2 separate regions of the Homo sapiens genome follow, and region 1 is linked to region 2. Evidence: fine-mapped expression QTL. Tissue or cell type: testis. Region 2 holds a variant in brackets; the other region holds the start of a gene. All regions are shown on one strand. Distances are from middle to middle.

Region 1 (16,873 bases), 19 kb after region 2:
ACTCATGATATATTCTGTTCTTAGAAGACAGGCAGTTAGTTACTCCCAGTTGGCCTGGGGAGAAAGGAAGAGAAGGATGGTGAAACATGAGGCTAGAAAGGTAGGCAGGGCCCATGCTGTGAAGACCTCTGTGTGTCCCTTCCAGTGTGAGGTATCCAATGTTTTAAAGTCGTGGAGAGATGTAATTGTATCTGTGTTGTGTGAAAACTGTAGGTAATTCTGACACATGGTGGAGGTTGGAGCAGCAGTGAAGAAAATGGCGAGCGGACCACTAAGCTGGAACAATGGTCTATGCAGAGGAGTATAGCAAGGCAAGTTAAAATCTGGAGCGGGGTCAGATTGTGGGACACCTTGCATGCCACACAGAGGTCTAAGACTTAGTGTTTCTGCCCTCTAGAAACTTGAAGTCTGTTTTTTAAAAGGAGGCAAGTATATCAGCTTGATAATTCAGAATAACTTGAGCGGGACAAGGCTGCCAGCAAAACATGCGCAAATGTGAGCTGCATTAACAGATGTACAGTACGCAGGAGGAAGGAGGCGTAGTTTCTCGGCACTGTTTTTGGAACAAATCTGGACTATTATGATCAGTTCAGGATGTCACATTTTAAAAAAGGAAGTTGTTCAAAGAGTGCATGCCCAGAGGTGAGGGAGATGGTGAAGGATCTGGAGATAAAGTCTGGTGAGGAAAAAATGGGAGAATTCGAGTTGCTTAGCTTGGACACAGAACATATCTGTCTTCAAATATTTGAAGGCTGGCAGATGGAAGAGAAATTTGATTCTGCCCAACCCTAAAAGTTATAAGAAAAAAATAAGTTTAATGCAATAAAGAAAGAATTTTATGATTTTGGAGCTGTTCACAAATGCAAATAACTAAATGCTAAGAGAGTGTACACAGCATTGTTTGGGATATTTGAAAGTAAGACGAGGCCAGGTGCTGTGGCTCACACCTGCAATCCCAGCACTTTGGGAGGCTAAGTTGAGAGGATTGCTTGATGTTAGGGGTCTGAGACAAGCCTGGGCAACATAGTGAGACCCCTGAGTCTACAAAAATAAAATAAAATAAAAATTAGCCAAACATGGTAACACACAACTGTAGTCCCAACCACTCAGGAGGTAAGAGGATTGCTTGAGCCCAGGAGTTTGAGGCTGCAATGAGCTATGATGGCACCACTGCACTCCAGACTGGTTGACAGAGTAAGACCCTATCTCTTGAAAAAATAAAAACAACATGATGGTCACCGCAGATTCTTATATTAGGACTTTGAAGATCCCTTCTGATGCTACTTTTTCATGAATTAATAATAAAAACAGAACCCCCAGAAAAAAAAAGAAATAATACACACTACATTTAAAAACTAGTCCACTGTTAATGGTCAGCCTGTTCATCTCCTGGCAGAGCGTTCTTTCCTAAAAGCAGAGGAAGGTTTTATTTAGAGCTTAATAAGACACTGCCATAAATTAATTTTGAGTCCAAAAACTGTGTTTGATTGACTTAGAAGGCAATGTATTTATTTTAAAACATGGAGTTTAAAAACTAGTGGCACTAGAATTAACTTAAAGTTGTAAACATCAAGGTAAAATAAATGTAATTGGGTTTTCAACTCTCCAGCAAGCTGGGTGAGTCTTATCTGACAGTCTTCAAGAGGACCTATTGCTTCTGCAGATGGTGAGCCACGTTAATGGAGAGAGGACTCACATCTAGGGAGAACTGATCAGAAACATCTTCAGCATATGATGAGTCTGAAGTATTGATTATAGATCTGATTAAACAAAAAGGAAATGTGGTTTGCGCAAAAGTTTGTGAGTGGGCAGAGGGGTAGAGCGTATGCAGCAAGAACTCCGTGTAGTATGGAACCTCAAGGCACATTCATATTTAATGAGAGCTGGCAAAGATAAATTCATTCATTTCATGTTGACAAACTCAGAAGTGGACTAAGAAGTCTCAAGGAATGCACAGTTACAATTATAGAGGCAGGGTGAAGATAGAATCTGGCAACTGAAGAGTTGGGTTTGATGTACTATGTAATCTCTCTGGACTCAGTTTATTCATCGACATCATGCTGAAAGTTACATCTGTCTAGTAGGTTTATCATGAGAATTTTATGGATTAATTTACATGAATGTGCTTTGTACAAATGTCATTATTCATGTTATTCTATCTTTCGTTTATTTCCCAAATATACTGAGTGCCTTCTGGGTGCCAGGCATTATTCTAAGCACGAAGAATACACCAGAGAACAAAAGAAAAGAATCCCTGTTTTATGGAGCTTACATTCCAATGGAGGGAGAGGGAAAACAGCAACATTAAATAGTAAAAAGTGCTGTGAGAAAAAATAAAACAGGAGAGAGTGTGTGCACAGGGTCATTGGAGGATGGCCTTTCTGAGAAGGTATCATTGAGCAGGCGCTGAAGAAAAGAAATGAGGATACAAGCTATACACATATCTGTGTGAAGGCATGTCAAACACAGGAAATTGCAACTCAAGGGCTCAAGGGGCCCAAAGGAGTGTGTTTGTCATGCTCAACAGACAGCAAACAGTCCAATGTGGAAATTACAGCAAACAACGTGAGAATAGAAGGGGATGAAGTAGTAGGAGGGATGGGGAGGGCCAGATCACAGCAGGTCTTATTGGCCATGTTAGAACCTTGGCATTTGCTTAGAGTTTATGGCATTTGCATGGAGCAGCAGAAGGTTCTGAGAGGAAGAATGATGGGATCTAATTTGTACAAGATCATATGATCTGATGCTGTGTTGGGAATAAACTGATGAAGTGAAAGGGACAAGGGTGGAATCAAAACAGTTAAGAGGTCTGGTACAGGGATCGGATTGGAAGACGATTTTGTTTTGGTGAAGATGACAGTAGAGCTGGTGGAGTTTGAAAGAAATGAAATGCAAGAAAATGATTTGCTGGATTAACATCTTTGAAAAGGTGAGAGGTGATGTGCTCTAGTGAACAAGTAGATGGGATGGCAGAGATAGAAGCATAGTTAGTTCATTTATAGTTAATGGAGGGAAAGCAGTCAGGATGGCAAATGGGGTATGGCAGAAAGTGGGGTAGCCCCTCTCTTTTCTTGGTTGCCCCTAAGGCAACAATAATCCAAGGTATCATCATAGAGCAAGTCCCACTCCTTCCCTTCTGGTCAAAATCTAGTTTCAGGGCATGAGAACTCTGCTCGTATGATCCTGAAGAGTACATTGAAAAATGGCCACAAAGTTCCCCCACCTCTGTTTGCTTGCCTTTTGCAGTATGACTTGCTGCTCCTTGCTTCAAGAGGTAATGTCTGTTTCTCCATCCTTTGAGTCTTCAGCACACCACTGTCTTTCTTTCTTTCTCCTTTCTTTTTCTTTTCTTTCTTTTTTCTTTCTTTCTTTTTTTTCTTTCTTTCTCTTTCTTTCTTTCTTTTTTTCCTCTCTCTCTCTCTGTCTCTGTCTCTCTCTCTTTCTTTTTTTTTTAGATGGAGTTTCACTCTTGTCACCCAGGCTGGAGTACAATGGCATGATCTCAGCTTACTGCAACCTCCGCCTCCTGGGTTCAAGCGATTCTCCTGCCTCAGCCCCCTGAGTAGCTGGGATTACAGGCACCTGCCATCACGCCCAGCTAATTTTTGTATTTTTAGTAAAGACAGGGTTTCACTATGTTGGCCAGGCTAGTCTCAAACTTCTGACCTCAGGTGATCTACCCACCTTGACCTCCCAAAGTGCCGGGATTACAGACATGAGCCACAGCACCCAGTCCACCACTGCCCTTCTTTCTATGAAACCCTCTAGGTATTCAAAGAAGGCTGTAAATATGGCAGGAGCTCAAACTACATTGCTGACTAAAAGTAACAAACTCTTGGAATAATGTTGACCAAATCATTTGACCTTTGTTCTTCTCTTCAATTCCCATAATAATAATGAAGAAATTTATGAGAAGGAAAAACATGATTATTAATAATGATCATATTTCACTAGGGAGTAGTAGCATCCATCTATCATGAGGCAGATAATAAAGAATTATGAACCAGCTTCTCTGATACCCTCAAATCTTTCTCTTCTTTGGACAATGCCCAATTTTTCCTCCTGAGATTGCTCTAGAATGCTTTCCTTTGCACTGAGATAATGAAAAATTTGATTAGAATATAAACAATTTCCAAAAAGGGGTAATAAATGAGGTTATTTTTAGATGCTGACACCCTGACGTGACTTGTTCTGTCAATTTAGCTGGTCACTTAGGGCCTTGAATAGGATGCACGAAAGATCACCAGGGGAAGAGAGGAAAACACACAGGGCAACTAGAAGGGCAGGCCTGGAGAAGAAGGGCAGAGAAGGTACTAGGTGCTAGTGAGTGAGGCCCTAGGACAGGTGATGGTGTTGGGGAGAGATGGGACGGTAGCTCAGAAGAGAAATGGGAGGACAGGTGCCCTCCTGGCGATTGTGCATAGTAGCACATGTGTCCATGAGAGGTGCTAGAAGGAGCACTGGAAGACTGAAATCAGAAAACAAGGGTTCTCTAGCAAGTCCTTTCCCTTCCCCGAGCTCATTTTCTCATCTCTAAACTGGAAATAGCACTCTTTCCCCTGACTACCTCAGGGATAGACATGAGGACCAAAACAAGCAATGTATTGAAAATTACATTGTAAACTGTGATGCACAGGCAAATATAGGGTTTTATTTATTTATTTATTTTAAAGGCTGGGCATGGTGACTCATGCCTATAATCCTAGCATTATGGGAGGCTGAAGCAGGAGGATTACTTGAGCCCAGGAGTTAGAGACCAGCCTGGGCAATATGGCGAGACATCGTCTGTATTAATTTTTTTAATACAATTATTATTATTTTATTGTATTAATTATTTATTGTATTAATTATTTATTGTATTGTATTATTTTTTAAATCTCTTTAAAAAATAAAAATTATTACATGCTTTAACAAAGGAAATAAGGAAACTTTTTTTCATGCATGCAGAAAGTAAATGGAAAGACTCTTTCCCTTCATATTGTACATCATATTAAAAAATCAACTTTGGAAGGGGGAACACATCTAACCCAGCATTATTGTTCAATATTGGAATTGCATGCAAATCAAATGAAATTGTATCTGTGAAGGGCGGCTGTTTTTCTTTCTTTTTTTTTTGATGGAGTCTCGCCCTGTTGCCCACGCTGGAGTGCAGTGGCACAATCTTGGCTCACTGCAACCTCCACCTCCCAGGTTCAAGCAATCCTCCTGCCTCAGTCCCCCTAGTAGCTGGGATTATAGGCACGCACCACTATGCCCGACTAATTTTTGTATTTTTAGCAGAGATGGGGTTTCGCCGTGTTGGCCAGGCTGGTCTTGAACTCCTGACCTCAGGTGATCCACCCGCCTCGGCCTCCCAAATTGTTGGGATTACAGGCGTGAGCCACTGCGCCTGGCGAAGGGAAGCTGTTTTTCTTACAGTTAACAACCAAGTGTCCTGAACCACTTCTCTTTCCCTTCCACAGCTTTTCAGTTTGGTGAGACAACACTCAGTTTGCAAAGAAACTGAGAATGGGCAAAGATGGGCATACTGTGTACACTTCTTCCAAAGTTTTTTGGGGTCGGGGAGGGGATGGGCACTCTGTCAATTCTAGCAATATTCTTCAAAGATTTCTCTACCATTCATCTGTGGAGCTGAAAAGGATGTTAGATATCACCCGTGCCAACTTCCAAACATTACACAGAAGGAACCAGATAGCACTTTAAGGTTGTTATATAGTAAGCTAGTGGCAAAGCTGAGACTCCAATGCAGGTTGCACAAGTTCTAGTTAAAAGATTCTTGGATGATAGCATGTTCTCTCCCTCCACTGGAATTCAGGCAGGGATCTCAAAATCTTAGATTAGAGTTCAGGAAGAAAGTCTCTGCAGAGTCTCACTCCAACCCTTATCCACAACTTCAGCTTTACCGACGCTCTTTTTATCTGGCCAGGCTAACATCTTCTAAGCCTCGTGTCCTCAGCCTTAGCCTCCCCTGAGAAAATTTCAGCCTTAATCTTCAAGGCAGGTGAGATCATTGGCAACATATTATAGCTGCTCCATCTCCAGGTCTGGTCTACTCTACTGGGGATGGCTGGTGATGAGTCCGCCTTTGGGGCTGACATTACCTCCCTCCTCAACCTTCCTAGTCCGTCTCATCAGGCATTTTGACAGGAAGCTTGGCTCTGCCTCTGGTCACATGCAAAATCCAGATAATGCTGGCAGCTAGAGTTAGTCCTGGAGGCTTGAAAAAGTAATACTAAAGCAAAGAGGCAGCTCCCATCAGCATGTCTGCCACCGTATAGGCAGGATGAGTTTCATGCCAACCATGGGAACATAAGCTCACATGCCTCGTTTCAGGGAGGCAGGTGGGTACAATTGTGTCCAATTACCCTGTGTATTGATTTTTGCACGGAGAAAGGTAGCTAAGATCATGTAAAGCAATCTGTCTGCTGAAGAGAACCTATATTTTATCTGAGGATCTAATCATAGACACCAAGGCAGACATGCCCAGAACTACCACCCCCACCCCTGCCATACACATACTACTACACTCACCCATGCATTCAGATGTCTATGCCAACATGCTCACACACATGCTAGTGCACACATCCAGACACTGAAATATATTTACATACAGTAAAACATTGTCTCAATCACACAATCAGACATTATCACATAGATCAATCCCCTTTACACACATTCAGGCACTCCAAGACCGTCTCTGACACTCTCTTCAGCCTTTACTGTTCCAAGTGTAAGATTCCCTTATTTGGAGGGGGAAGGTCACCTCAGTTTCTCACAGCTGACAAGCAAGAATCTATTCACCTTTGAAGGCAAAAACCCAGCTCTCCTCCCCTAACACCAAAGCATCTTAGTTCCACAGGTTCATGCAACAAACAAACAAACCAAAAAAAAAAGAAGAAGAAGAAAAAGAAAGATGCATTTCACAGTTGCCTATTTATTTAATATATAGCAGTAAATGGCTGAAGGCTGTTTTCTTCCCATTCCTTGTTAAAATTAAGAAGATGATGAGCAACTAAAGTATTTTCACTCTCAAAATTCATGCATCCAGCTTTTATGGTTTTTTTTTTTTTTTAATATACAGAAACGAATTTGAAGACCCAGTAAGCTTTCCAGGAGTATAGACTCCTTGATGAGAAATAAAATGTAACCACACAGGAGGTTTTTATTCGTGAACGTGACTGCATTTCCTTTCAGCAAAGGGAAAGGGAAAAAATACTTTGGAATGATCAGGAAACTGGAGGAAGGGCGGAAGAACCACCAAAGGAGGTTGGAGAATAGCGGGGAAGGGCGGTGGGGAGGCGCCTTTCCCATCTCAAAATCCCAGCTCTCATGGAACCCCTGCCATCTCCATGTCTGGCAGATACGCACAGAGGCAAGCCAGCCAGAGCTCTTTTCTGTCACCAACGACATCAATGTGTTATTATTGTTAGCATTGTTACTGTTACCTGCATCCGGCATGGCGAGGTGCTGGTACTTACCCCAGTAGATAAGCACGAGAGAAGCCAGGGGAAACAATCTATTGAAGGCAGGCATCTTCTGGGGCTGGCGGCTTCCAAGGCTACACAGAGAGATTCCCTCGGTCAAGGACTGCGCCCTCTCAGATTCTTTCGAGGAAACCCTTTGGGACGAACTGCCCCCAGGGGGCGACTTTCTGACCGAAGGAAGGGCCGAGCACCGGTGCCTGGGGAGGCCCTGGGAGCTTTTGGAGCCGGGTGGGGGCTTTGGGCCCTAAGCGACCCCACTGGACCTCCCCAGTTCGAGGGAGCCGATCAGCCGCTCCGCGCCCGCTCTCGCCGGCGCTCAGCACCACGGACAGTCGCCTCCCCGCCCACCCCGGAACTCCAGCTTCCACTCGCGCCCCTGCCTCGCTCGTTTGCGCCCAGGGTAAGCTCAGCTCGGAAGGGAGTCGCACTGCTGGCCTAGCAGCCAGGCTGTGGAAGGGTCCAGGTTGATTCACCTCTCGCCTCCCCAGGATCGGTTGCGTTCCGACTGGAATCCTCCCAGCCCCGCGGCTCCTGCTTCGTCCGCCCTAACTGCTTCTCCAGCTGGGCGTGACCCCACTCCCGAAGCCGCCGGGGCCGCCCGTCTGGGCTACAGAATGCGTTCCACGTCGGTCCCGTCCACGCCCGCCCTCGGCTCCCTGGGGAGGTGCAGCGGGGCCGGGAAGGAAGCGGCAGCTCCCGTTCGGCCGGCGATGTCAGAGGTTGGGGGGTGGGTGTAGAGGCGGAGCCCCTTCCCGGGAGCTCGCCCCCGGATGGTGCGGGGCCCCGACCCTGGGTGGCAGGTGATCAGCAACCCTTCTCTAGGCCCCCAGGCCGTGTGTGCTGTCAGCCCTGACATGCGCAGGCGGCTCTCCGCCACCACCACCGCCCCGGACCCTCCCCCTAGTGCACACTCCCCACCCCCTGATGGGCGTGCCCCTCCCAGGCCCAGCGCCGCGCCGAGCGGGGGCGGAGCCGGGAGCGGCGCAGACACTTCCAGCCGGGATATCTTTGCTCGCGCGCTCGCTGGTCTCTCCAGGTCTCCCTCTCGCGCCTCCGCACCTCCCCCGAGCTCGGGCGCACCGCCGCCCTCGGCTCACGCCCTCCAGGCAAACCCACTCCGCTCCCGCACGGACTTGCCGGGTGTAGCTCCGGGAAGAGAAGGGCCAGAGCTCTTTCAGGCAATGATGTCATCTGCAAGGCGCGCCGTACGCGGTTCCTGGCTTCGCCTCCCAGACCCCATGCCTTCCAGTTCTCGCTGTCTATCCTTTGTCTAGCCTTGATTAATTGGCCCCGGACACAGCAAACTCAGCAAGATAATCCCTGTTTAGGGCAAATGGGGTAGGGATGAGGCGCACCTGTTCCTGTCTTCACCTCATCACTCAGTGAGGTGATCCAAATGTCAGCGCAAGGGGAGGGGGGCCCAAGAGGACTCCTCTTCCCTTCCCCAGGTTCTTTGCAGTTCTCCCTTTTCCTTTAATTACTCCTTTTTAATAAAGCAGATAGATTGTGTTTGGCGTCTTCCAACTATTAGCCACTCCCTAGTCCTAGCAGCTGTTTGAGTGCCCCCGCCCCATCTCTGGAAGGGAAACCTGAAACTTTACATTCAACTATAAACTCAAATTGACATAACAGATTAGGAACGCCTGGAACTGAAGTAAAAGAGTAATCCAAGAGCCCTTCTTCAGCTTCCTTTTTCTCCTCTTCTGCTCTTTCCAAAAGGGGAAGCTTAACGCTGATATTCCAAAATGGAATAACAGAGCAACAGCTGACGGTGAGTGGACCAGAAGCAGGAAATGCTCCCTCCTGACATCTCACAGAGTAACAGAATGTCCCCAGTCGGATCTTCCTGGGCAGGGAGCCACCAGGCCATAAACTCTGTGCTGTTTGGAGGACTAGGCCTTGAAGCATGTATACTGTGTTAAATTTGGATGGGAAGTTAAAGTTGACCTAATTCAACCGCTTTTCCAATTTGTGACTTCCCCCAAGAACATTTCGGACGAATGGACTTGATTTTATTTATTTATTTATTTATTTATTTATTTATTTATTTATTGAGACGGGGTTTTGCTCTTCTTGCCCAGGCTGGAGTGCAATGGCGCGATCTTGGCTCACCGCAACCTCCGTCCCCCGGGTTCAAGTGATTCTCCTGTCTCAGCCTCCTGAGTAGCTGGGATTACAGGCATACGCTGCTACACCCGGCTAATTTTGTATTTTTAGTAGAGATGGGGTTTCTCCATGTTGGTCAGGATGGTCTCAAACTCACAACCTCAGGAGATCCACCCGCCTCGGCCTCCCAAAGTGCTGGGATTACAGGCATGAGCCACCGCGCCTGGCCTTGATCTTTTTAGTGATGAGAACTTTCTACATCACAAGTTCACCTCTTCTGATGCTTAAGGAAGTTCTTTATGTTCAGTTGAATTCCGTACACTCCTCCTCCCCCTCCAAACTCCATTAAGTGGCCCTAATGCTGTTTTCTCTTTAAAAGAGCTATGCTTCCTCACATCCGCCCTAAGACATTTTTGTTTGTGGCTACTCTTCCTTAGTTTCTTCCAATGTATTTTCTAGTAGTTTCCAATCCTGTACCACCCTGGCTGCTTTTTCAGAAGGACTTTCAGTTTCTCAGCATGATTCTCCAAGTGACGTCCAGAACAGGAACTGATGGTCCCTGTGTGGTCTGACCAGCATAAATCCAGTGGAATTATGGCTACATTTGCTTTGAAGGATATAACTAGTTAAATACATTTACAGCCACATCTTAGTCATAATCAGCTTATGTTCAATTAAAATCCCTGAGTATTCTTCACTTGACTTGTTGCAGAGTCATTGTGTCTTGTACAGGCAATTTTGGAAATTTTATTATGAAACTTTGCACTTATTGCTGTTAAAATTTATTAGTTTCAACCAGTTATCACACTGTGTTAATACTTTTATTGAATTCAGATTCAATCACCCAATATATCTCTCTTCTTTACCCTTGTTTCATCTCTAGGCTTGACAATCACATGATCCACACATGGATATTTAAAAAAAGAACCAATAGAAAAAAAGAAGAGATAGTCCTATGGCCTGCTTCTAAAGACCTCATTCTACCTTGACAATGAGCTACTAATTAACATTTTTGTTTGTTTGTTTGTTTTTTGAGACGGAGTTTCACTCTTGTTGCCCACGCTGGAGTGCAGTAGTGTGACCTCGGCTCGCTGAAACCTCCACCTCCCAGGTTCAAGCAATCATTCCGCCTCAGCCTCCCAAGTAGCTGGGATTACAGGTGCCCACTACCACACCCAGCTAATTTTTGAATTTTTAGTAGAGAGGGGGTTTCACCGTGTTGGCCAGGCTGATCTCAAACTCCTGACCTCAGGTGATCTGCCCGCCTTGGCCTCCCAAAGCACTGGGATTACAGGCATGAGCCACTGCACCTGGCCTAATTAAAATTCTTTAGAACAGTTGCTCAATCATAAAACCCAAACATAGCTCCCTATTTTTTATATGTACAGCATGAGACATTCTGAAAATTTAGAATAAAAGGAATCTGTGAGAGGAATTAGACATCTAGTCATCCACAGGAAAGAAATAGGATCAATGGCTTACACTAACACAAAAACAGATTTTCAGCAATACATTTCAAACCTTTCCAAAGTAGGACAAATTACCTTTCGTTACATCCAAGCAGTTGTTATCCAAACAACTGCTGGGATGTTTAGGAAGGAAAACCTGTAAAGGTTAGAAATTTGGAATAGATTATGTTAAAGTTCCTATCGTCTTTGAGGTTCTATGACTTTATTGAAAGCCTTACCAAGACTGAAATACACAGACAGACTGAAATATTTTCAGTCTGATAATTTTATCAACTACCACAGCAGGAATTGGCTCAGCTTTACAAAATTTTTCTTATGTCTATTCATGTGAATTGCTAATATTCATAATGTTGTTTTCTAATTGTTTATCAACCCCATTGTAAATAGTCACTGTCAGGATTTCACCTCTATTTTTCATATACCACTTCTTCCCTCTCCTGTATTGAAAATAGGAGCATTTAGTCTTTTCATTCTCCTGCTGTTTCCCTTGATTTTTGGCTGTCACTCTCAGTCACTTTTGCAAGTACCTTAAGTTCCCTGAAGTACTCTTGGCCTTGTTCTGAGAGTTTTAAAATCATTTAAATTAAGCTCTCCCTTCCTCTTTTCTGCCATTTTGGCTTCAATCCTTTCTCATTGTTGTTGACTTGGCCTCCCAATTTAATAATCATTCTCCCTTCACAGTTAATGGGTGAAACCATATGCTCTATTCTCCAAAGAGTAGACAGAACAGTCTTTGTATTCTAAAAGATGGGAACTTCTCTTGCTTAAAGCCCTTCCATGGCATCTCACTACACTGAAATAAAATCTAGACTTGTCACCATGGCCTAATGTTGGCCTTGTGCCCTGGCTATCTCTCCACACTCATTTCTACCACTCTCTGTCTTGTCCACCATGTTCCAATTACACTTAATTTTAAAGAAATGTACCTCATAGTTATCAAACTCTTCCCCACTATTAATATTTCCCATCATTATTATTATAGCCTTAGCATTTGATGTCCCCTCTTCCTGGAACATTCTTCATTCTATGGCTGGTTTCTTGTCATTTTGGTCTTGCCTCAAATGACTTCACCCTAGAGTGACATTCCCTGGTCACTCTAAGCTTGTTTCCTGCTACCTTCCTCACCTGAAGCTACTCTCTATCTCATCACCCTGTTTCTTGTTCTTCATATCTTCTCTCACTATCCAAAATTATCTTATTTTTAATATATGTACTTGCTTATTTTCTGTTCCTCCCATCAGGCTGGTTCTCCTTGGTGATAGATAGCAGCCTTGTTTGTTCTGTCTACTGCTGCCGTCCTGCACCTAGATCAGTGCCAAGCAGATATTAGGTCCTCTTCACAGAGGACACAAGTGAATGAATACACAAGGGAGTGAGAATAGTGTGGAAACAGTGAAGAGCTGAGGCCAGAATCAATAGGGGAACAGAAAACCAAGAGTCAGAGAAATAGGAAGAGACCCAGCAAGGTGCAATGCCATGGCAGGCCAGGGAAAAGAGGGTCTTTAGACTTAAGGACACTTCTCCTTTGAGGGGACTTTAGCTAATTATGCTCAGAGATTGAGGAAGAGGATGGAGTACAGAGCCTAGATATTCAGGGATCTTGAGGTGGAGGGAATGACATGACTCTGCTGAAGAAAGAATTGAATGGGAGCTATTCAGGGAGATGTTAGTTTTCTTGTGGAATGAAACACATTCACTGAGACTACTGGGGAGGAATTAGAGACAGGAGCAGTGGAAGTGACATTGTAAGTAAAGATAAGGTGTGGGACCTTAAGAGACACACAATGATCTTGGTAAAGTAGGAAGCCACATTTTCCATTGAGTGTAGGTGGTAGGGAGGTACAGGAGAACCCAGGACAAGGGAGACAGTCTGAATAACTGAGGGCACCTTCTTAAAGCATAGAAAAATGTCAAGAAAAGCTTTTCAAGATCAACATGTACCTGAACTCAGTCAAGATGCAAAAATCAGAGCCCAACCTAGGAAAGTCAAGTAACCTGCTTTTGCTATTCGAAGTGGATTTTGAAAAATAGTGCACACCCCATGGGACAAGGAAAGGGAAGAAATATGTTCATTTTAAACTGTGGCCAAAGAACACATATGGGACTGAGAGATATCAGGCTCTTCCAAATCATTCCCTCATCCTGCCAGCCAGCTGTGTGATGTTGTCACCAGGCAAGGGAAGTTTGGGATTAGAATAGGAAGCAGTGACATGATGATTAGATTATGCAATTCCTTCCTGGATTTGCAAATGGCACAGAACCTGGCAGGTAAGATGGGGCCAAAAAATGTTTGTTGAAATGAATTGGATGTCACCTGACTGATTGTGGAAGCCAACGCTTTCCTGACATCCAGAAGAGCCCTGCCCACCTCCATAACACCCTGTGCACAAAAGAAATGCCATCTGCTCTTGACCAATCTCTAGAAAGTCCATGGTTCTGCCTCAGCCAGAGCACTATTTATGTTTAGTTTTGATCACCCAAACGTGTAAATGGAAATAAAGAAAATATTATCAGTGATAAAGTACTTTATGCTACCCAGAAGCAAAGTTATAATATATTTCAAGTATTGTTATTAGCATGGCATAATTTTTTAATGCATTTCTGGCATGCATATGGCTGAAGCTCTTAGGATAGGCAGAAAGAAAAGATGTGTATTGTTTAATTTTTCACACTGCTATAAAGAACTGGCTGAAACTGGATGATTTATAAAGAAAAGAAGTCTAATTGACTCACAGTTCTGCATGGCTGGAGAGGCCTCAGGAAACTTACAATTATGGCAGAAGGCAAAGAGGAAGCAAGGCACGTCTTACATTGTGGCAGGAAGTGGGGTGGGGAACCACCACACACTTTTAAACCATCAGATTGTGTGAGAACTCACTCACTATCACGAGAACAGGGTGGAGGAAACTGCCCCCGTGATAAAATCACCTCCTACTAGGTCCCTCCCTTGACATGTGGGGATTACAATTTGAGATGAGATTTGGGTGGGGACACCAAAACAAATCATATCAAGATGTCTTGTAGAAATAAGCACAGTCATTATCTTTGGTGCTGATCAAAGTCCTGTTGTTGTTCCAAAGTTTTGGGCAACAGCAACATTGAGCCCTGATTGACTCAATGTTTATAAGCAATATTATTGAAGAAGAAAATGAAACCACAAAATGAGGGCCAGGTGGTAGACAGGAGGCCTGTGTCCCATGCTTAGTGCTGCTCTGAGATAGTATAGTATTGACCTTTTCACCTAATCTCTCTGAACAAATTCTCTCTCTAATTGTCTGCCTCCCAGAGTTGCTGGAAGCACAAGGGAGATAATACGAGTGTGTCTTGGATTTTGTCAAGTCCTATAAACCAAGAAGTGTTCAGTTCCTATTTAGATAATTTTTGAAAATCCTTACAGAGATAGGTTCAGCTGTTAACTTCAGCATAATGGGAAATAATCAGCTTTCATAATCTATCATTAATCTGTTATCATTTTCATCATTATCATTATATTTAAGGGCATGCATTGGCCCCAGAACAATGATATGCATATATTATTGATAAATTGATAAATTTATTTAATCATTCTAACAATTTTAAAAAGTAGGCACTATTAGAATTCTCCTTTTTTTTTTTTTTGAGGGAATAAATACAAGAGAAGTTAAATGACTTAGTTACTCAAGTGCATGGGCAGAACCATAATTGAAACCCGATTTTTTGTCTCCAAAAGCCTTAAGATCTTAATATCTTTCTTTAAGATCTTCATCATTGAAAGACACTTCCATGTGCACATCAGCCAGGAAGTTAACGACTTGTCGTATGTTGTGCAGTTCTCAAATGAGTGTGCTGTGTGTATTTATGTGTGAGAAAAAGTAGGAATAATTCCTTTACTCATAAAACTTCTAGTATGGTGGGAAAGTATAAAATCTAAGAAAATAGACATGGGAAAATCCAATATGTTTTGTGTTCTTTCTTTCTTTTTCTTTAGTGCTTAAAATTTGGAGATCTCACATGGATTAACATGAATGAAAACCTCTTAGTTGTTTTTCTGTTTTCTGTAAGCAACTGTTTAGCCTCATCTAATATAAAAGTTTTATTTTTAAGACACACTATGTATTAGTCTGTTTTCATGCTGCTGATAAAGACATACGTAAGGCTGGGCAATTTACAAAAGAAGGAGGTTTACTAGACTTACAGTTCCACATGGCTGGGGAGGTCTCACAATCATGGCAGAAGGCAAGGAGGAGCAAGTCATGTCTTACGTGTATGGCAGCAGCCAGAGAGCTTGTGCAGGGAAACTCCAATTTTAAAGCCATCAAATCTCGTGAGGCTCATTCACTATCACAAGATCAGCACAGGAAATACCCACCCCAATAATTCAATCACATCCAACTGGGTTCCTCCCACAACACATGGGAATTGTGGGAGTTACAATTCAATAAGAGATTTGGGTGGGGACACAGAAAACCATATCATTCTGCCCCCTGGCCTCTCCCAAACCTCATGTCCTCACATTTCAAAACCAATCATGCCTTCCCAACAGTCCCCCAAACTCTTAACTCATTTCAGCATTAGCTGAAAAGTCCATAGTCCAAAGTCTCATTTGAGACAAGGCAAGTCCCTTCTGCCTATGAGCCTGTAAAATCAAAAGCAAGTTAGTTACTTCCTAGATACAATGAGGGTAGAGGCATTGGGTAAATACAGCCATTCCAAATGGGAGAAACTGGCCAATACAAAGGGCTACAGGCCCTATGCAAGTCATAAATCCAGCAGGGCAGTCAAATCTTAAAGTTTCAAAATGACCTCCTTTGACTCCATGTCTTACATCCTGGTCACGCTGATGCAAGATGTAGGTACCCATGGTTTTGGGCAGCTCTGTCCCTGTGCCTTTGCAGGGTACAGCCTCCCTCCCAGCTGCTTTCATGGGCTGGCTTTGTGTCTGTGGCTTCTGCAGGTGCACAGTGCAAGCTGTCAGTGGATCTACCATTCTGGGGTCTGGAGGATGGTGGCCTTGTCTTCCAGGACAGGTGTGTCCCATTTCCTCTGCATGATTGTAGGAAGCACTCCTTACAATTTTCCCTTTCTAAGCATTTATTCCATGACTTAACCCACCACCACTACAACTGCCATCACTCAGATATACCAAAACTTGGGTAAATAATTATCTTTCTTGTTTATATTGATCTTTTCCAAGCTCACATTTATTTCCATTTCTACTATTGGAAGTGATTTGGGGCTGGGCACAGTGGCTCACGCATCCATCTGTGGTAGGGGACCATCTCAGGTGGATGGTCCCCTAGTAGGGACTCTGTGTGGGAGCTCTGACCCCACATTTCCCTTCTGCACTGCCCTAGCAGAGGTTCTCCATGAGAGCCCCACCCCTCCAACAAACTTCTTTCTGGACATCCAGGCATTTCCATATATCCTCTGAAATCTAGGTGGAGGTTCCCAAACCCCAGTTCTTGACTTCTGTGTACTTGCAGGCTCAACACCATGTGGAAGCTGCCAAGGCTTGGGGCTGGCACCCCATGAAGCCACAGCCTGAGCTCTACATCAGCCCCTTTCAGCCACAGCTAGAGCAGCTGGAACACAGGACACCAAGTCCCTAGGTTGCACACAGCATGGGACCCTGGACCTAGCCCATGAAACCACTTTTTCCTCCTAGGCCTCAGGCCCTTTGATGGGAGGGGCTGCCATGGAGACCTCTGACATGCCCTGGAGACATTTTTCCCATTGTCTTGGGAAATAATACTCTGCTTCTCACTACTTGTGCAAATTTCTGCAGCCAGCTTGGATTTCTCCTCAGAAAATGGCATTTCCTTTTCTATCATATTG
Region 2 (14,742 bases):
AGCGTTGGGATGATTTTTAACCTTTTTTTTTCTTTGAGATGGAGTTTCACTCTTGTTGCCCAGGCTGGAGTGCAATGGCATGATCTCAGCTCACTGCAACCTCCGCCTTCCAGGTTCAAGCAACTCTCCTGCCTCAGCCTCCTGAGTAGCTGGGACTACAGGTGCCTGCCACCATGCCCGGCTAATTTTTGTATTTTTAGTAGAGATGGGGTTTCATCATGTTGGCCAGGCTGGTCTTGAACTCCTGACCTCAGGTGATCCACCTGCCTCGGCCTCCCAAAGTGCTGGGATTATAGGTGTGAGCCACCGCACCCGGCCGATTTTTAATCTTATGATGAGTAGTACTGTTGTTGCAGGAGATTGTGGTGGACTGTGAATCCCGATGATGGTTTCTTATAGAACTTTTCCCTCTTCGGGCCTTAACACTTCCAGGAAGATGAATGTTGAGAGACTGCTCCATGTTCTTCTTTTATGTTACCTAAACTGGTGGAGCTGAGAGCCAGATTGGCTCCTCCCTTCATTAGGTCAGCCTTGCAGGGAGCTCCTCGATGCCTGGTAAGGAAACTTGTTTGATGTCAGGCAAGAACATAAGTGACTCTTGTATTCCTTTGTATTGGGGTAGAGGAGGAAAGGGAAGCGGAGAGGCTAGATCACACATTTAGTGTGTGTTTAATGTAAGGCTATTACATGGTTTTCATTCTCATGCATATCCACAGATTGGGTATGGGAATTTGAAGCAGGCTGGGGTGCTGGGGGAAGCCATAGTCTATGGTGCAGACACACTTAGTAAGTAGAGCAAAACCAGAGACAGTGGTTTTCAGGGATACTTTATTGACATGAACAAGGAGTTTACTGAAAAACAGCACATACAGGCATTACGTTGTTGAGGGCTTAGGTGGTCAGGAACATTTCCAGAGTTTGGATTGTGTTCGATGGCAGTTCACAAGCCTGCAAGCACTCGGCCTTCAGCGGCCTCCGTCTCCATCACACACACTGCTCAGCAGAGGCAGCTCTTGCCAAGCCGTGACGCAGGGAGGAAGCACAGAGCATTGCTGGCTCTGAGGGTCAGCTGGCCTGGGATGGAGACCGAGTTTGATATATAAATCAGACTTGCTTGGAAGTGCTTATCTCCTGCGTCCTGCTGCAAACTCAACTAAGGGGGAGGAAGTGGGCTGAACTAATCATGAGCTGTCCACCAGCTGAGATTTTAGAGATTAAGTAAGGTTTGGATGATGCTGCTTTTCAGACCTGTGACTGCATGGCACACTAAAGGTCTAGGCTAGAGCTTGACAGAGTGGGTGCAAAAAGATGTTAGTAGAATGAGTGGATGATCAGACTGGCAAGCACACCAAGCACTATTCAGATACATTTGCAGTGACTAGGTGAATTCACTGAATTAGGGATTTTTCATTTACAAAATGAGGTGAGAGGAAGGCTTCTTTTGTTTTTGTTTTTCATTTTTTTCTTTTTTCATTTTCATGTTAAACTGGGAAAGGGGAAACTAAGATATATTCTGAAGTGTGTCTAGCTCTTGCTTCTCTTTCTTCCTGCAAAGATGCAGTGACACAGCCTTTTCCCTCAGATTTATGTGAGGAGGACTCACAGATTCTGAGATGGATGGAATTTCTTTTTTGATCCAATAATTTTGGGGAGAGAGGAGGGAGTTGCTGTCTCCTACTTCCCAGCACATTCCTGCTTTGAAAAGTAACTTTCCTAGTAATATTTCTAGTTGGACATCTAAGGAGAAACCTGCAACTCAGAAGGAAGTCTGGGTGTGTGGGTGTCTGGGAATGGAGAAACTAAAAGGTCATGCCGTTAAACAAGTGGTGAGAATAAAGGCTGGGGTAGGGACAGGCAGGGAGTGTTTGGGTTGGGGCTCTGATTCAAGACCGAGGTGACAGTGAAGGTCAGCAGGGCAAGGTGCTCTCAGGGCCAACTGGATTGAGCAATCACATTCATGGCTGTGAAGTAGTAAGAATGGGAAAATCAGATTGAGCCAAGCTTGGCCTTTAGTGAATTGTGTTATTGAGGATCAGACATGGGAAATATCCAGCACCAAGACAACAGATGGGGTTTCTAAAGTGATATTAATAGCCCTTGAGAACTCTTCTAAGCCCTTTAATAAGCAACATCATGCCAGATAAAGCTTCCAGAGAAACAGACATCTAGTCTGGGTCTTTCGTAGGATTATGGGAAGAGACAGGGAGGTGGGTGGAGATTGGAAGTAGGCTGGTGATCACAGTACCTTATTGATTTACAGTCATTATCAAATCTCCCAGGAAGGAGTTTAATTGCAATTCAGGAGAAATAATGATGTACAAACCAACTAGAAAGAGAACCAAAATAGGACTGACTCTCAAAGCACATTGCTAGCATCCACCAAAAAGCAAAGTGGTAGAGAAGCAGTGAGTGGGATTAGGGGTGAGAGAAGATGGAGAACATTAGGACAGGCAAGATAGGCAATGGTTAGATGGAAGCTAAAAAATAAGAAAAGGAAGCAGCTATGGTCTAAGTGGAAAGAGAACTGAAAGAGGAGTCAGAAGACCTGGATTCTTGCTGTCTACCTACCAGCTAGGTTTCCTTATAATTTAGTAAAGCTACTTAACCTCAGAGACCCTCAGTTTCTTCTTTTGTAATGTGACCTCACAGGACCAGTTATAGAGAAGAAATAAAATAGTTAAGTGAAAATACTTCGTAAACCATATAGTTCTAATGAAAGTGTCAAGAATGAGAAGAATGGAGAAGTTAGAAAAAGGAAGAGTGGGGAAGATAACCTGTCAAGGATAAATAAGTGATAGATACCATTCAGCTTCATTAAAAGCCACGCAAGCAGCATCTGAGTTGGGTTTTTTTAAAAAGAAGAGAAAAAGGCAATCATGCATACTGCCGGGTTCAACTTAGATACACGAGCTATTGGGCCACCGAGGAAAACGGTGTGGTAGTAAGCATCTTGCTACTACCGCAAGCTGGTGGCATCCATGAGCTATGGGACTGGAAAAATTTCACACTGAGGCCAATTTTTCTAACTATAAAGTTAAAAAGGTCTATATCCTCTCCCTTATTTCAGAGGGATTGTGTGGAAAATTACCAATAAGAAGAGTCTTGAATTTATTGCAAATATTTTCTTCAACAAAATCAGACTCTTTAATGTGTTAACGGTCTGGTTTTGGGCCAGGCACAGTTGCTCAGGCCTGTAATCCCAGCACTTTGAGAGGCTGAGGCTGGCAGATTGCTTGAGCCCAGGAGTTCAAGATCAGCCTGGGCGACATGGCAAGACCCCTGTCTCTACATAAAATACAAAAATTAGCCAGGCATGGTGGTGCATGCCTGTAGTCCCAGTTACCTGGGGGCTGAGGTGGGAGGATTGCTTAAACCTGGGGCAGTTGAGGCTGCAGTGAGCTGAGATTGCACCACTGCACTCTAGCCTGGGAGACAGAGTGAGAATCTGTCTCAAAAAAATAATAATAAATAAATAAAAATTTAAAAGTCTGGTTTTAAGTACTTTCCTAGGGATGGAAGAATGAAAAAAATGAGCTTTTAAGGTAAAGCCCTAAACCTATGGAATATGGTCTTTCCCTATAAAGGGAGGTCCCAGGTCTGAGGGACCTCTCTCTCGCTGAATCCCAGTCACCTTCATCTTCTTACATTCCATAAAGCATCTTTCCCCTCTCTTGTCCCTGGGTGCTGAAGGATGTCACACTTGGACCTGTCACTTAATTAAAATGAAACACGAGATATTGACTAAAGTTTTTTCCAGTTTCTCTGCTCCCTCAAAATCTAGGGGAAAAAAATCTGAAAATTATGCATTCATAGGCGAAGTATTTGGAAAGCACCTACCCATCCCTCCCCTCTCACACTGCTCATTTACTTATGATCCATCTCAGACTAAACATTTTTCTTAGTTTAAATATCAGTCTCAGATGCACTCTCCTTTTGGAGGATATTTCAGAGTCACAGATCTTTACATAAAGGAAGTTCTTTAAGTCTACCTCATGTTCTTCTCCCTGCTTTTTTGGCCAATTTCTAGTCATCTGAATCTATCAGAGTTGACCTCAGCCCAGTCCGTGCTTGTGAAAGAAGCATTGCCATAGACAAGTTCAATGTCAGTCTTTTCAGAAACAAAGTTATCCACCGGGCGCAGTGCCTCACGCCTGTAATCTCAGCACTTTGGGAGGCTGAGGTGGGTGGGTCATTTGAGGTCAGGAGTTCAAGACTAGCCTGGCCAACATAGTCAAACCCTGTCTGTACTAAAAATACAAAATTTAGCCAGGCGTGGTGGTGCACACCTGTAATCCCAGCTACTGGAGAGGCCGAGGCATGAGAATTGCTTGAACCCAAGAGGCAGAGGTTGCAGTGAGCCGAGATCACACCACTGCACTCTAGCCTAGGTGACAGAGTGAGACTCCATCTCAAACAAAAAAAACAAAAAACAAAACAAACAAAAACATCCATCCCAGGAAGTGTAAACTGGGCAGCACCTAAGGCTTATTTCTGCTCCAGTTTATCCTCTTAAGCCTCTTATTCAGTTGAGCCCTGTATGAGTCTTAGTTGCCTCCTGTATGTAAAATGAGGAATAATACTGGTGCACAGAAATTTTGAGAGGAAGAACTCAGGAATTTCAGTCCTAATGCCCAGGTGGTGTGCCCACAGGGAGGGCACACATACATTATCGCAATAGGATCAGGAACGTGTCCAGAAACATGTTGCATGACTTTTTAAGAGCCACTTAAATTACCATTGGTCCTTCCCAAGTCTCCTGTCCTTGTCTTCTTGGAGGGAACCTTAGAGACCCATCAGGATCTAGCTCTGGAGTACTAAGCTCCAGAGAGCATGTTAGTCCATGCTTCAGGATCTTTCTGTCACTGGAGAACCTAGACAGGCGTGCTTCACTCTGATGCTGTAGCAAAGTGGGCCATGAACCTGACAAAACTGACTTCAGGGAATCCAAGTTCATGACACACTTTTGCTTTAACCCGAACTAATCACTCCTGCTTCCTTCTATTAAGACTTCCATTCTCTTGCAGTAATGGAGAATGAACCAGTTCCAGCCAGTTAAGGGCAGAGGGAGGTGCTAACTCCAGCACTTGTACAAAGTCATTTGGAGCACAGGGGAGAAATCCAGTTGGCTTTGGAGTGTCTTGTTGGAAAACTAGGAGAGGGTGAGGTTGAGTCTATGTAGAAATGTTGGCTTCTCAGTTCTGGCAGAGTCTTATGGTGCGTAGAGGTCTGATGGAGTTAGGGAGTCAGAGGTGAAAGCTCAGAGGCAGGTGGATGTATGGATGAATGAATGAACAGAACAATGGATGCATGAAGGGAAGCGATGGGGCCCTTGGGGCGCCCTCCTGATGCCATTGACATTGCTGAACATGGGATGTCCAGTCCCTCAGGTGTTCAGGCCACCTACCAAAGATAAAATAACTCACTGAGAATTTCCCACCCAGTCCAGCCCAGCCCAGCCCAAAAATTCTTTGACCAAAGAAGGGAGTTGGAGAATCCTGTGCCTCTGTTACCATGGGCAAGTTCAGATTGCCTCGACACTCAGGTCAAAGCAGTTCACCTTCCGAAGCGCTGACATCATACAGAGCTTT[C/G]TGACTTAAAGAATTACCCTGAGGGCGGGGACCCCAGGCAGGGTAGACAGTGACCTAAGGGACCAAATTTAAAGTCACTTCAGTTGTGGGCAACAAAGTCACTTGTACAACCTGCCATCCACATCTGCCTTCCCCTCCCATGTTCCTGTAGGTCACCTCATGTCACACTGCTCCTGTTCTATTCCTCCACTGGTACCGCAGAGTTCTCCTTGTTCTCAGATGGGATGGCAAGGTAGTCAGACCTATAGAGGACACAGGGAAAGGGAATCAGAGCTTCAGTGCCCAGCGTGGGAACACAAGATGGGGAAGGAGCAGGGCACAGGAGCAAGGATCTACAGAACAGCTCTGCATTTCCTTCTGCTGTGTTTCTCAAGAGAAAAACAACCTTTTCTGCAGATTAAAATAATCATTTCCCCCATATATGTACACGAACACCCACCAGGAGTGTATAGCTTCTCATTTATCCAGGTTGTCTTCAGCATTTAGTTAGATTATTATGTTGGCCAAGGCTCATGCCTCTAATCCCAGCACTTTGGGAGGCCAAGGCAGGAAAATTGCTTGAGCCCAGGAGTTCAAGACCAGCCTGGGCAACATGGTGAAACCCTGTCTCTACAAAAAATACAAAAAACTAGCCTGGCATGGTGGCACGTGCCTGTAGTCCCAGCTACTTGGGAGGCTGAGGTGGGAGGATCACCTGAGCCTGGGAGGTCGAGGCCATGATTGCACCACTGCACTCCAGCCTGGCAACAGTGAGACCATGTCTCAAAAATAAAATAAAATGTTGGTCAAAATGACAGCTGTGAAATTATATTTTATAGTTGTTTCACATGTTTACAGGCTATTTGGGTTTCTGCTTCTGAAATTTGTTCATCTGCTTTCCAGTTCTTCTGAGATCTTTGTCTTTTTCTCATTGATTTTCCTTTGATGCTTTCATGTTTTGACAATTTCTCCCAATCTCTTGTTTGTCTAGGAATTTTGCTTATGGAGTCTTCTAATGAACAGCTGATTCTTTACATATAATGTGATCAAAATTATTTTTCCTCTTGGATTTGTGCCTTTTGTATTTTATTTGGGAAATCCTCTCTATTGCATGGTGATAAAGAGAGTCTCTTATATTCCCTTAATGGAATTTTCAAGTTTGACATTTTACTTTGTGTTTAAATCCCCTCATAATTTATTTTGGTTTAGTATGAGAGATGGGGAATCTAATTTTGTTTTGTGTTTTTCTTTGTTTCTATATAGATTAGGAATTTTCCCTAGACCACTTACTGGGCAGTTCATTCTTCCTTCAATCACTGTAACGTCATCTCTCTCACATATCAGGTTTTCCTACATGCATTAACCTGATTGGTGGCTTTTTGTTTTGTTTGTCCATTTCGTATGCCTGTGCAGTATCACAAACTCTGTATTCTGATAGCTCTGTAAGAAACCTTCATCTGGCTGGGCGCAGTGGCTCACACCTGTAATCCCAGCACTTTGAGAGGCCAAGGCGGGTGCATCACGAGGTCAGGAGATTGAGACCATCCTGGCTAACATGGTGAAATCCCGTCTCTACTAAAAAAATACAAAAAATTAGCCAGGCGTGGTGGCAGGTGCCTGTAGTCCCAGCTACTCGGGAGGCTGAGGCAGGAGAATGGCGTGAACCTGGGAGGCAGAGCTTGGAGTGAGCCGAGATCGCGCCACTGCACTCCAGCCTGGGCAACAGAGCGAGACTCTGTCTCAAAAAAAAAAAAAGAAAACAAAGGAAACCTTCATCTCCGATAAGACAAATCCTACCAACCTCTTGCAAATTTACTGCTCTTTCTTTGAAATGGTTTAGACCGAGGGTGGGCAAACTGTGGCCTAAGAGCTAAGGATGGTTGTTTGCAAACAAATAGAAGAACAATACATGACAGGGACCTATGGCGCCTGCAAAGCCTAAAACACTTATTATCTGGCTGTCCCTTGGTTAAGACTATTTTTGGCTACTTAGCCTTCCATGTGACTTAATATCAGCTTATTAAGTTCTTTGAGAAATCTAATGGGCATTTTGATTGGGATTTCATTGAATTTGAAGATCAATTTGGGAGAAAATTGTTTACAATTGTGAGGTTTTACTCTCCATCTAGTTACGTTTAAAGTCTTTCAGTAAAGGTTTCTAACTTTTTCTTTAAATGTCTTGTATATTTTTGTCAAATTTATCCCCGGAACTGGGGAGTACTTCTTGCTATTGTAACTTTAAAAGCATTTTAATATTTTAAATATTTAAATTTGTTACTAAATTTGTTGCTGGAATATAGGTGATTTTTATATTTTGATTTCTATCAACAATTTTGTGGAATATTCTTCCTTGTCCTAATAGTATTTTTGTAGATTCTCTTAGGTATCCTATGTAAATAGTAGGTATAGATAATGATAATTTAGTTTCTTCCTTTCCAAGTCTTTTTCTTCCTTGTATTTACTTGGTCTTCACCTAGGATTTCCAACACAATATTGATAGAAACAGGGAGAGGCAGTCTCCTTGATATGTCCCTGATATTACAGGCACTTGAGGTTTCAACACATAGATGATATTTGCTGTAGGGTCTCTTAGTAGCTGCCATTTATCACTTTAAAGATGCTTGGTGTTTAGGTGTAGATGTATTTTATTCATCCTGCTCAGGGCATATTATGCTTCTTGAATCTGAAGAGTCATCCCTCCCTCAGCCGTTCTGTCTCTGAACACTGTCTCTCCTCCATTCTCTGTTCTATTCTGTTTTTTTTTTTTTGAGATGGAGTCTCGCTCTGTCGCCGAGGCTGGAGGGCAGTGCCGTGATCTCGGCTCACTGCAAGCTCCGCCTCCCAGGTTCACGCCATTCTCCTGCCTCAGCCTCCTGAGTAGCTGGGACTACAGGCACCCGCCACCATGCCCGGCTAATTTTTTGTAGTTTTAGTAGAGACAGGGTTTCACCATGTTAACCAGGATGTCTCGATCTCCTGACCTCATGATCTGCCTGCCTCGACCTCCCAAAGTGCTGGGATTACAGACGAGAGCCACCGCGCCCGGCCAAAATGATGCTTTCTTTATCAAACATTTCTAACTGGTAATAGCCTAGACTGTTTTCGGTTTGCCTCAGCAATGTTGCTAGAAATCTGTGGGTTTTTTCTATCTTTCCTTTCCCCAGACAACCAGCCAGCATGATCTCTTAAGACTCTTTGTTCTTACAGACCCCACCGTTTCTCAAATGTGCTCACCCTCAAGTGACTAGAGTCTCTGAGCAAATGGCTAAGGTACAGGCTGGACTTTAGAGGATTAGAGTCCCCACTCTGGACATCTAAGCGCTGCCAGGCTCTAGGGGAAATAACATGTTGCTTGGAGCTCCTTTGCTAGCAAAGGGCAGTGCCCAGATGGCCTGAGGAGCTCCATGGTATAAAGCAAACAGTTCAATGAGATAGAAAGAGCATGGACATTAGCACTAGAGAGACCTGGGTTCAAATCTCAGCCTTTCCTCTTACCATCTGTGTGCCTTGGTAAGCTGCTATGAGTCGGCTTGGCATTTACAGAACGGTTATAATAATGTTACTTTTTTGTTGTGTTTTTGGGCTTTTATTGTTGTTGTTTTTGAAATGGAGTCTCGCTCTGTCACCCAAGCTGGAGAGCAGTGGCACGATCTCAGCTCACTGCAACCTCCGCCTCCCAGGTTCAAGGGATTCTCCTGCCTCAGCCTCCCGAGTAGCTGGGATTACAGGTATGTGCCACCATGCCCAGCTAATTTTTTATACTTTTAGTAGAGACGGGATTTCACCATGTTGGTCAGACTGGTCTTGAACTCCTGACCTCAGGTGATCCTCCCGCCTCAGCCTCCCAAAGTGCTGAGATTACAGGCGTGACAGCCATCATGCCCAGCCATAATAATATTACTTTAACGGGTTGTGGTAGCAGCTGATGGTCTTTGCCTTAGTGGTTAAGTGTGCTGGCCAAGAATCAACAGGCCTGAATTCAAACATCACTTTGTTTCCTAAGTGATGTTTGAATTAAGCAAATGTTTAATTTTTCGTAATGAATTAAGAGTTTGCCTTAAGCCAACTCTCCGAAATTCAGTGTTCTCATCTGTAAAATGGGTATAATAATGGTGCCTATCTCTTAAGCAGTGATCATGAAGAGGGTGGAGGATGAATGTAAACTGCTTAGCACCTCACCTGTGAGAGCAAGCATTCTGAAGGTGCTAGCTTTCATTATTACTTTGGCATCTCTGGACTTACGCGTTTTCTTGGGCTGCCTCTTCGGCTTTTGAGACCTTTCTGTAGCAATATATCATCTCGATGAGCAGCCACAAGGTGAGGAAGACCAGAAGGATGTACATCATGATTTCTGAGACCACAGAGGTGAAGTCCTCTCCAGCTGAAAGAAAGAGAATGAGGTTCAGAATATGCAAATCCAGCAAACCTAGAGCCGTCATTGGAGCCATATTTTTAAGTACAGCTTAAATAAAGACTGAGTAAAGAAACTCAAGAAGATGTCAAAGGTATTCCAAATCCTGACTCTCCCGCCCATTGGCTTTCTCACTGACTGTCATCAGCTGCTCAGGAGCCAGGGAAGAGGGAGTGGGATGCCTGGAAGAAGTAGCCGAGCAGTGGAAGGAATCCTGGCCTCAAAGTGAGATATCTAGAGCTGGCTGTCCATTTTGCTATTTACAGGTGTGTAAACAACCATTTCCCTTACTTGAGACTCAGTTTCTTAATTTGTAGGTTGAGGATAATAACACCAGTCAGGGGTTTGTGAATATTACATTATCTAATGTATTTCAGAACATCTTGTGAGATTAAAAGTCTACACAGATGTAAGGAACATGCCTTATTTCAACTGCCTCTGTCTTTTGAGCTGCCGGTGGTGGAGGGTGGTATTCCTGGGGAGAGAGCGTTGGAAAACTCATTCAGGGCCAACAAAGACAGCCTCCATGAGATATGCGCATGTTCTCTACAAGTCTGGGTTAGAAACAAGACCTTCCAGGTCATCCAAAACCAAACATAAATATTGGAGGATTTAGTGTATCAACCGCATTGTCCCCAGGGCTGTACTTTTGAAACACAGTTAGGATCCTGCCATTTCCCTGCTGAAAACTCTTCAATGCTCCACACTCCCCTTAGGATGAAGCCCCAACTCTGTTCACGTGACATGCAAGGGCCTTCACAATCCGGGCTTTCTCACCTCATTTCCATTTGGTTGGCCAGAAAAACTTCTGCTACACACTGTGGTATGTTAGAATCTGTGAACTTTTCTTCCTCTTCCCTCTTCCTGAATTGTGTCTTTCACCCACGGCTAGTTCTGTGCTAATATCCTCTCCTGCTTTGCAGTCTCGCAGTAGTTCTAGATTCCTGTGAGGTCCCCTCCTTTGTGAAACCATCCCCAACTTCTCATGCGGAGCTATTCACAACCTTCTCCGTGCACTTTTCTTTTCTCTTTTTTTTTTGAGATGGAGCTTTGCTCTTGTTGCCCAGGTTGCAGTGCAGTGGCATGATCTCGGCTCACTGCAATCTCCGCCTCCCAGGTTCAAGCGATTCTCCTGCCTCAGTCTCCCAAGTAGCTGACATTACAGGCACCCACCACCATGCCCAGCTAATTTTTTATACTTTTAGTAGAGACGGAGTTTCACCATGTTGGCCAGGCTGGTCTCGAACTCCTCACCTCAGGTGATCCTCCTGCCCTGGCCTCCCAACGTGCTGGGATTACAGGCGTGAGCCACCGCGTCTGGCCTCCATGCACTTTTCTCATCCATCTGTTATAAGAGTTGTATTGTGCTTATCTTTCTTTTCTGTGGACTGTGTGCTTATTGAGAACATATTTATTTCTGGATTATCTGCCTGCTGTATAAATCTTAGAATATTTAAAGTGCTCAATAAGTACTTATTGAATGAGTGAAAATAAATATTATCTTATTTGTTTCATGATCAACAAAAAGGACCATTAAAACATACTACATGGCAGATATCCTGATATATCTACTCCTTGCTAGTGGGAGAAATGTTGTAGCCACCTCTCCCCTTGCCAGCTCTCAACAGCAAGTCAGATTTATGATCTGCAGTTATCCATTGGATCTAAGTCATCCCCAAGTCCTTGGTTGTTAAGAGCACAGCACAGCCTGCCATAACTTTCAGCCCAGAGAGCAGTCCGAAGGCTCCAGGATCACCCAGGTTTCCAACTGGAGCTAGAGGTCATAGATGCAGCGTGAGGCACATGAGAATGCCGTACAGCTCAAACATCTCACCGCCTTGCTACCACCTCGTGCATTATTTATGATTTGTTTGGCTTAAAGCATGCTCTCTCTTTCAAAATGCAGTAGCCCACAAATGGCAATACAGGAAGCTGTCCTCAGTATTTTTAGTTACCTCTAGGTGAAGAGGCCTCAGGTTTCTGCCTTAGGGCCAGGAGGTGACAGCCAAAGCCAGAATAAACCCAACTTGAACAAAGAGAACCAGGGAGACCTTGTGGGACCACAGGAATGGAGGAGATGTGGGGTTGATGGGCAGGTGTCATGGTGGGGTGGGTGCGTAGCTCTGAGCAAGATGAGGGCAGGGAGTATCTGATGTCACAGAGGCAAAAAAGAAAAAGTGGCAGGGGGTTGGGGTGGTGGGGGTGGGGAAAGAAACAGTGGAAAGCAAGCCCTCCAGACAGGCGAACAATCTGGATTTTCACCCTGCTTCCAGCGCGAATTTGCTGCACGTCCCTGAGCAAGCCCCTTGCTCTTGCAGAGAACTCTGTTCTCCCAGCCACAAAAAGAGGGGCACCAGAGCTACACCCTCCAATCACCTGGGGAGTCATCAACTTGCATATGACCTCACTCACCCCTGCCGATCTCACACCTGCAAGGGTGCTGCAGAGGTGTCTACATCTGGAGGACGCCAATGTGGGCGATTCTGATGTCTGCCCTTTATCCAGAGGCCCTGGATTAAATAAATGATATCCACGCTTCCTTCACACCCGACCATCCACGAGGCTCTGTGGCTCTGATAATAAACTTGTTTTTCCTTCTGTTTTTACCCGAGGCTTGCTCTGGTACCTGGCAGACGAACTAGCTCAGCCTTGCCACACTTCCCACCAGCTATGCACGAGGGTGTCTGGAGGCAAAAGCCCGAGAGAGCAGAGGTGGAGACGGCTGAGCACTGTGCTAAGGTCTGGCGGGCACCAACCAAAAGTTCCAGATGGTGACCAGGAGAGGGCGCCAGGGCCCCACCCCCCAGAGGAAAGGCGTGTAACAAACGGGGGATAAAGGAACTTCAGAACAGGGGAGTACCTCAGAGAGCCCCCCGCCAACCCCTTCATTTCACACCAGAGGAGCGGGGCTCCGAGCAGGGAAGTGACTCATCAGGTCTGGATTCAGGAGCCCTGAGAGTCCCTCTGCACTTTCAGAATTGACCTACCTTCCATTTTAGTCATATCGTCTGATCCGTTATGTCTCTTTCTCCTTTGTTCATTCACTCTGAGGACTGAATCTCCGCTTCATTATTTTTATCACAACGACATGATAAAAAATGAATAAACCTGTGGCCTGGAGGTTGGGATTCCTGGATCCTTTTTTCTAGGAAGAGCCCTGTCTTTAACTTGATCTTTTCCTTCATGCCCCACACTTTGGCCTGCTCACTAGCAGTGATAATGCTGGAGATAGACTGAGAAAGGCTGGAACTCCCCCCTCAGGATGCAGGACTCCGGTTGCAACAGAAACACCTGAGTTAGGCTGCTGAAAGGCCTTCCCACTCACGAACACGGAACTAGCTGTAGGAGTCCAAAGATTTTAAACAAGACTAGAGAGCTATCAACCTGTCCCCTTCTCCCAGCAGGGAATGAATTTATGTAATAAGAGATGCCACAGATGGGGAAGAGGTTGCACGTGTGATTACTGTGAAGAAAGACAAAAGAAAAAAAGATTGTCAAACTTTGGTTTAGAGAGAGGTTCTCAAGGTGTGGTCCCAGCAGCAGCACTGCCCGCCAGGCAGTGTGTCACGCAGTGCAAACTCTCAGGCTCCACCGACAAAAGCAGAAAGGCTGGCTTCCAAAAAGCCCTGCAGGAGATTTTGAGGTTTGCTAAAGTTTGAGAACCCCTGGCTTAGAGGCATGTATTGCTTACAGGTAGAAGGAGAGATGACTTCCGGGTAACCTCATGAGATTTCTCTGAGCCCACTGAGTCAGGGATTCAACATAGGCCAAAGAAGAAGGCCTAGCTGAATCAGTAGCTTTAGGCCTCATGGAGGCTAGCCTCTTTCTCTAAGGGACCAGGAAGAGCTCATTCTATCATCTCCAAGCCTTTCTGCTTTGAGGAAAGGCACAGAAAGACAAGCTGCTTAGGGAATTTACAGGAAGCTGGCCACCAGAAGAAGATGGGTCAATGGTGACATTTTTAGATGTCACCATTCCAAATACATGGGTTTTTGCACTCTTTAAGGGCCTCACTCGTGGAAAACTGCTGTCCTACCCTTCCCTGTCCACAGAGAGCAGGACGCCCTAGAGACCCTGTGCCTCAGCCTCACCCTCCTCGGTGACTCTTAGGGGGATCAGCCGCGTCGTCTTCACAAAGGGCCGATGCGCCTCAAACTCAAACTCCCGGGACACATTGCAGGTGTAGAGGCCAGAGTCGTTCAGAGTGACGTTGAGCACAGTGATGGACACGTCCTGCAGGTCCTTGCTGCCATTCCACTGCAGGCGCCCCTGAAAGGGGCTCTCCACCTCCTGGTGGCCATTCCGATACTCGTAAATCTGCAGATAGAGGAGCAGAAGAGGGTAGGGCCAGGAAAGGAGATGGCAGTGGGGGGAAGCCGAGTTAGGGACAGGGCAGAGAAAAGGAGCAGAATTGTGCATGGACAGGGAAGAGAGGGGACAATGCCACCGGGAGACCCAGAATGTGGGGGTGGGATGAAGAGGCACAGAGGAGGGTAGGGAAGGGAGCAAAGACAGGGAAGGACAGGCAGAGGCAGCAGGCATCAGGGCATGTGGACGTGGTGAGGACAGAGGCAGCCACGGGCGTGTAGGAAGAAGCTTGGCAGAAAAAAAGGGGTGGAAAGAGGGAGAACAAAGGCAGGCGGGAGAAGAGTATGGGAGCCCAGGAGACGGACATTGAGAGAAAGACAGGATTGTAAAAAGATAGAGAGAACAAGAGAGTAAGATGTGTCCCAGAGCCGCTGGCAAGAGAACAAGGTAGAGACA

Direction of the effects. Alleles are on the strand shown, and positions count from the first base shown. SD is a standard deviation of normalised expression in the study named.
As copies of C replace G in region 2, the expression in testis of the gene that starts at base 8,356 in region 1 goes down (large effect, 0.88 SD a copy in GTEx).

Evidence for each region. PIP is the estimated chance that this variant, and not a neighbour inherited with it, causes the effect.
Region 1: it holds the start of SCN3B, and the variant in region 2 is fine-mapped to the expression of SCN3B in testis (GTEx, PIP above 0.99).

Annotation. Positions count from the first base shown.
Region 1 is chr11:123,646,269-123,663,141 of GRCh38, forward strand. SCN3B (sodium voltage-gated channel beta subunit 3) reads right to left here and starts at 8,356. Exons shown (of 7, transcript NM_001040151.2): 1 at 7,958-8,356; 2 at 7,479-7,558. The coding sequence starts at 7,533. It overlaps LOC105369543 (a long non-coding RNA gene), which reads left to right and starts at 7,417. Exons shown (of 3, transcript XR_948124.4): 1 at 7,417-7,884. RefSeq lists silencers at 7,740-7,809, 8,370-8,599.
Region 2 is chr11:123,628,377-123,643,118 of GRCh38, forward strand. It overlaps SCN3B (sodium voltage-gated channel beta subunit 3), which reads right to left. Exons shown (of 7, transcript NM_001040151.2): 4 at 14,070-14,295; 5 at 9,810-9,948; 6 at 5,745-5,830; 7 at 812-5,400. The coding sequence ends at 5,767. It overlaps LOC124902777 (a long non-coding RNA gene), which reads left to right and starts at 10,163. Exons shown (of 2, transcript XR_007062929.1): 1 at 10,163-10,244; 2 at 12,591-13,098. The variant C/G (reference allele first, on the strand shown) is at 5,589.